Homo sapiens: one gene and its partner. The protein of the gene in region 2 interacts with the protein of the main gene of each other region in a biochemical or structural test. Each region holds a gene or a part of one and is shown on either strand. Other genes may lie near its edges.

What was found. The genes of interacting proteins can lie anywhere in the genome.
Region 1: the proteins of VDR (region 2) and CREBBP form a complex in vitro, tested with the Homo sapiens proteins (2 studies listed by BioGRID).

Annotation. Positions count from the first base shown.
Region 1 is NC_000016.10:3,727,619-3,730,851, reverse strand, and holds part of CREBBP (CREB-binding protein), read left to right. Parts: intron 1-977; coding exon 978-3,134; 3' UTR 3,135-3,233. UniProt on the Homo sapiens protein: Acetylates histones, giving a specific tag for transcriptional activation. Mediates acetylation of histone H3 at 'Lys-18' and 'Lys-27' (H3K18ac and H3K27ac, respectively).
Region 2 is NC_000012.12:47,843,434-47,846,065, forward strand, and holds part of VDR (vitamin D3 receptor), read right to left. Parts: intron 1,573-2,632; coding exon 1,313-1,572; coding exon of another isoform or gene 1,112-1,312; 3' UTR 1-1,111.

The sequences.
Region 1 (3,233 bases), on a different chromosome or scaffold from region 2:
GGACCCCCCGGTCATGCTCCCTCACTCCCCTCTAGGAATTTTGACCCCCCTGTGAAATGACGTGGGTGTCCCTTGCATGGGCCGAGTCAGGCTGTGCAGGGCAGGCAGGTGACAGATCCCACCATCCCCCTCCCAGGACAGTCACCATCACCTGCCAACCCGGAGCCTCCTCACTTGCTGTGGTGTCTGTAGCGGGGCAGAGCGGGTCCTCAGCAGAGCGAGGGCCTTTCTTCCCTCCCCACCTTCACACACTTCTTCCGCTTTCCACCTTTCTCCAGTCTCCTTTGTCCTCTTTCTAGTTTCTGAATGCGGCAGTTTTCATATCTTTTTGTGAACACAGTCATGGTACCTGGTCCTAGGGCTCCATCAGGTTGCCAGGTGCGAGCAGTTTTCAGTAACTTGGGCTTGCGCGTTGGGGAAGTCCCACTGGTGCACTGCGGATAGCTCAGGCCTTCCCAGAGGCACTTCACGGCAGCTGTCGGCGCTTTGGGAGGGACCGGCCTCCCTCAGCCTTTCACTGTCTGGCTTCATAGTTTGAGTACAGGAGTTGGACAGGCTGTGGCAAGGGCTGATGTGACTCCCAGGTCAGAGGAAGTCGGAAGGAAGGGGGCTGGTGTCTACTGTCCGTGAGCTTACAGGCCAGGGGTTCTTGGGGCATGGGTCAGGTTATCTTTGAGCCTTCAGGGCTGTTGCCAGGAGTGAAGGTCCTTGGGAGCAACACATAGGCAGTCCATGCCCCCGTCCTGTCCATGATCCCATGTTGTCCATGATCCCATCCCGTCCATGATCCCATCTTGTCCGTGCTCCCGCCCTGTCCGGGTCTCCCACCTGTCCGTGCTCGCATCCTGTCTGGGTCTCCTATCCTGCCTGGGTCTCCTGGCACAGACCCAGACTTAGCGGTGGAGGGAAGCAGCCAGGATGCCTGGTGGTACTGGGTCCCATGCTGACACCGGCCTGTCCCCTTTCCTTGCTTGCAGGACTACGACCTCTGCATCAACTGCTATAACACGAAGAGCCATGCCCATAAGATGGTGAAGTGGGGGCTGGGCCTGGATGACGAGGGCAGCAGCCAGGGCGAGCCACAGTCAAAGAGCCCCCAGGAGTCACGCCGGCTGAGCATCCAGCGCTGCATCCAGTCGCTGGTGCACGCGTGCCAGTGCCGCAACGCCAACTGCTCGCTGCCATCCTGCCAGAAGATGAAGCGGGTGGTGCAGCACACCAAGGGCTGCAAACGCAAGACCAACGGGGGCTGCCCGGTGTGCAAGCAGCTCATCGCCCTCTGCTGCTACCACGCCAAGCACTGCCAAGAAAACAAATGCCCCGTGCCCTTCTGCCTCAACATCAAACACAAGCTCCGCCAGCAGCAGATCCAGCACCGCCTGCAGCAGGCCCAGCTCATGCGCCGGCGGATGGCCACCATGAACACCCGCAACGTGCCTCAGCAGAGTCTGCCTTCTCCTACCTCAGCACCGCCCGGGACCCCCACACAGCAGCCCAGCACACCCCAGACGCCGCAGCCCCCTGCCCAGCCCCAACCCTCACCCGTGAGCATGTCACCAGCTGGCTTCCCCAGCGTGGCCCGGACTCAGCCCCCCACCACGGTGTCCACAGGGAAGCCTACCAGCCAGGTGCCGGCCCCCCCACCCCCGGCCCAGCCCCCTCCTGCAGCGGTGGAAGCGGCTCGGCAGATCGAGCGTGAGGCCCAGCAGCAGCAGCACCTGTACCGGGTGAACATCAACAACAGCATGCCCCCAGGACGCACGGGCATGGGGACCCCGGGGAGCCAGATGGCCCCCGTGAGCCTGAATGTGCCCCGACCCAACCAGGTGAGCGGGCCCGTCATGCCCAGCATGCCTCCCGGGCAGTGGCAGCAGGCGCCCCTTCCCCAGCAGCAGCCCATGCCAGGCTTGCCCAGGCCTGTGATATCCATGCAGGCCCAGGCGGCCGTGGCTGGGCCCCGGATGCCCAGCGTGCAGCCACCCAGGAGCATCTCACCCAGCGCTCTGCAAGACCTGCTGCGGACCCTGAAGTCGCCCAGCTCCCCTCAGCAGCAACAGCAGGTGCTGAACATTCTCAAATCAAACCCGCAGCTAATGGCAGCTTTCATCAAACAGCGCACAGCCAAGTACGTGGCCAATCAGCCCGGCATGCAGCCCCAGCCTGGCCTCCAGTCCCAGCCCGGCATGCAACCCCAGCCTGGCATGCACCAGCAGCCCAGCCTGCAGAACCTGAATGCCATGCAGGCTGGCGTGCCGCGGCCCGGTGTGCCTCCACAGCAGCAGGCGATGGGAGGCCTGAACCCCCAGGGCCAGGCCTTGAACATCATGAACCCAGGACACAACCCCAACATGGCGAGTATGAATCCACAGTACCGAGAAATGTTACGGAGGCAGCTGCTGCAGCAGCAGCAGCAACAGCAGCAGCAACAACAGCAGCAACAGCAGCAGCAGCAAGGGAGTGCCGGCATGGCTGGGGGCATGGCGGGGCACGGCCAGTTCCAGCAGCCTCAAGGACCCGGAGGCTACCCACCGGCCATGCAGCAGCAGCAGCGCATGCAGCAGCATCTCCCCCTCCAGGGCAGCTCCATGGGCCAGATGGCGGCTCAGATGGGACAGCTTGGCCAGATGGGGCAGCCGGGGCTGGGGGCAGACAGCACCCCCAACATCCAGCAAGCCCTGCAGCAGCGGATTCTGCAGCAACAGCAGATGAAGCAGCAGATTGGGTCCCCAGGCCAGCCGAACCCCATGAGCCCCCAGCAACACATGCTCTCAGGACAGCCACAGGCCTCGCATCTCCCTGGCCAGCAGATCGCCACGTCCCTTAGTAACCAGGTGCGGTCTCCAGCCCCTGTCCAGTCTCCACGGCCCCAGTCCCAGCCTCCACATTCCAGCCCGTCACCACGGATACAGCCCCAGCCTTCGCCACACCACGTCTCACCCCAGACTGGTTCCCCCCACCCCGGACTCGCAGTCACCATGGCCAGCTCCATAGATCAGGGACACTTGGGGAACCCCGAACAGAGTGCAATGCTCCCCCAGCTGAACACCCCCAGCAGGAGTGCGCTGTCCAGCGAACTGTCCCTGGTCGGGGACACCACGGGGGACACGCTAGAGAAGTTTGTGGAGGGCTTGTAGCATTGTGAGAGCATCACCTTTTCCCTTTCATGTTCTTGGACCTTTTGTACTGAAAATCCAGGCATCTAGGTTCTTTTTATTCCTAGATGGAACTGCGAC
Region 2 (2,632 bases):
ACACCTACAGCTCACTCTCACAAAGACCCCACCTTGGAGTAAACGGACAGACGCTTCCCACCAGCTGGGCTGGGCTGGCTGCAGAGAGCATGCACTTGAAGTTGTATCACTCCGCCCCTGCCTCACAGGCACCTTTTGACTTTTGGGTGGTGGAGTGAGAATAAGAAGGCACCTTACCCTACATCACGGAACCCCCAAACACTCTCTCTGACTAGCCACCCGAGACTGCCCCGCTCTCCCTTCCCACACTCTGGGGTGCGGCAGCGCTAGCTCTTAGCCCTGTGGGTGAACAGCGGCCTTGCAACCACATTGAGGCGGCAGGGAGATCATGACTCAGCCGCTGGGGTCTGAAAATTCTTCTCCTCCATCCCACCCTGCCAGATGGAGAAGATGCGGCTCACTGCTTCTCCAGACCCTCTCCCCTGGGGAGGGGGTGGGGGAGCAGGCTCTCGGCTACTCTCGGTGATCCGAGGAGGACAGGGAGGGCTGGCTCTCCTGGGCAGGAGGTAAGGCACTGGCAGGGGGAGGACGAGGTCGGCAGGTGCTTTTCTGCAAACTGGGGACAATTCAGTCCTGCTACATGGATCCGTGGAAGGAGGGCTTCCACCTCAACCAACCCCTTAGACCCAGGGCGAGGAACTGTGAGCTTGGTGACAGGGACAGCTGTCATATTCTTCTGTGAGGCTGTTTTTGTCTGTTTTTCCTCCTTGGGTCTCTCAGCAGGTGGGTTCGTGCCTGGTGCTCCAGTGATGGGAAGAAAACCCACCTCACCACAGCTACTGCCCGTGAGAATATAACCAGGGCAATGGGATGTTGGTGGGCACTGAAGGGGGTGGGGTGGGAGCTGTGGGCCGATTATTTATCGTGAGTAGGCAGGAGAGGGAGACCCCACTAGGCGCTGGACAAGCGGGGCCTGCAGTGGGGGGAGGTGCAGGTGTCTCTGTCCCTGAGGAATGGATGCATTTCTCCTGTCTGTTCCCTCAACATCAGTCAGCAGCCACTTAGGCAGCGGTGGAGGCATCTCTGGGCAAGGCCCTGCCTCCAGCCTCTGCCCTCTGCCCCCACTTGGGTTTCTTTGTCAAACAAACAGCAACTCCTCATGGCTGAGGTCTCAAGGGACCGGGGAAAAGCCCGCAGGAAAGGGGTTAGGTTGGACAGGAGAGAGAATGGGCTGGGTGGATAGGGGAGGTGGCAGAGGAGGGGCTGAACCCCAGACGGGGTGAGGAGGGCTGCTGAGTAGCCGCCAGCCCCGGGCCTGGCACGTGGCCCTGGAGGAGCAGCCCCACCCAGGCACCGCCACAGGCTGTCCTAGTCAGGAGATCTCATTGCCAAACACTTCGAGCACAAGGGGCGTTAGCTTCATGCTGCACTCAGGCTGGAAGGAGAGGCAGCGGTACTGCTTGGAGTGCTCCTCATTGAGGCTGCGCAGGTCGGCTAGCTTCTGGATCATCTTGGCATAGAGCAGGTGGCTGCCCGGGGGCGGGTGGCGGCAGCGGATGTACGTCTGCAGTGTGTTGGACAGGCGGTCCTGGATGGCCTCAATCAGCGCGGCGTCCTGCACCCCAGGACGATCTGTGGGCACGGGGATAGAGAAGAAGGCACAGGAGCTCTCAGCTGGGCCCCTCACTGCTCAATCCCACCACCCCCCACCCACACAGACACTCAACGGCAGCACCCCCTAGGCCACCCCTCTATGACTGCTGACCGGTGATACCACTGCCTGGCCCCAAAGCCCTCCAGTGACTTCTCCGTGCATTTAGGATCCAGACCTAGGTCCTTCCATGGGCGCACCTGGCCCTGTCCCTGCCTGGCCTTGCTCCCTGTCCATGCTCTGTCCATCCCTCAGCGTCCCGATGCGCCATGCTCTCTGGCCACCAGCCTTCACATCTGTGCTCCCTCTGCTTGGAACTCTGCTCTGCTATCTTTGCCAGACTCTTACTGATCCTTTGGATAACAGCTTAAAAGGTCTTCCTCCAAAAGGCCATTCCTGGCAACACTCTACCTCTGTAGCCCAGACCACGTCAGCTTCCCTCCTTCTATTCTACCCTTCTGTAGCATCACTTACTTTATTTTTAAAACTCTTGCCTTGTTAGGAATTAATAATTAAATAACATTTGTTTAATGTTTCCTCCTAAGCTTCATGGGAGAGGAGCCTGTGTCCCATTTGCTGCTGAACCCCAGTACCTAGCATAGTGCCTGGTACCTAATAGGTGCTCAATAAATTGTTGCTAAGTGGATGAATGAATGAGAGAAGGCTGGCTGGGCAGGGGTAGAGGAGCCCATCTCCATTCCTTGAGCCTCCAGTCCAGGAAAGCATCCCTGGGCACAGGCCACTAGCACAGGCTGAGGCAGGGCCGCCCCTCTTTGGACCTCATCACCGACATCATGTCCCCAAGGTCACAATAACTTCCTCTTCGGCCTTTTCTCCCTCTTCTCACCTCTAACCAGCGGAAGAGGTCAAGGGTCACTGCACATTGCCTCCAAAATCAATCAGGTAAACTATATAGGCAGAACCATCTCTCAGGCTCCAAAGTTTTGTACCCTGCCCGCAAGAAACCTCAAATAACAGGAATGTTGAGCCCAGTTCACGCAAGAGCAGAGCCTGAGTATTGGGAATGCGCAGGCCTGTCTG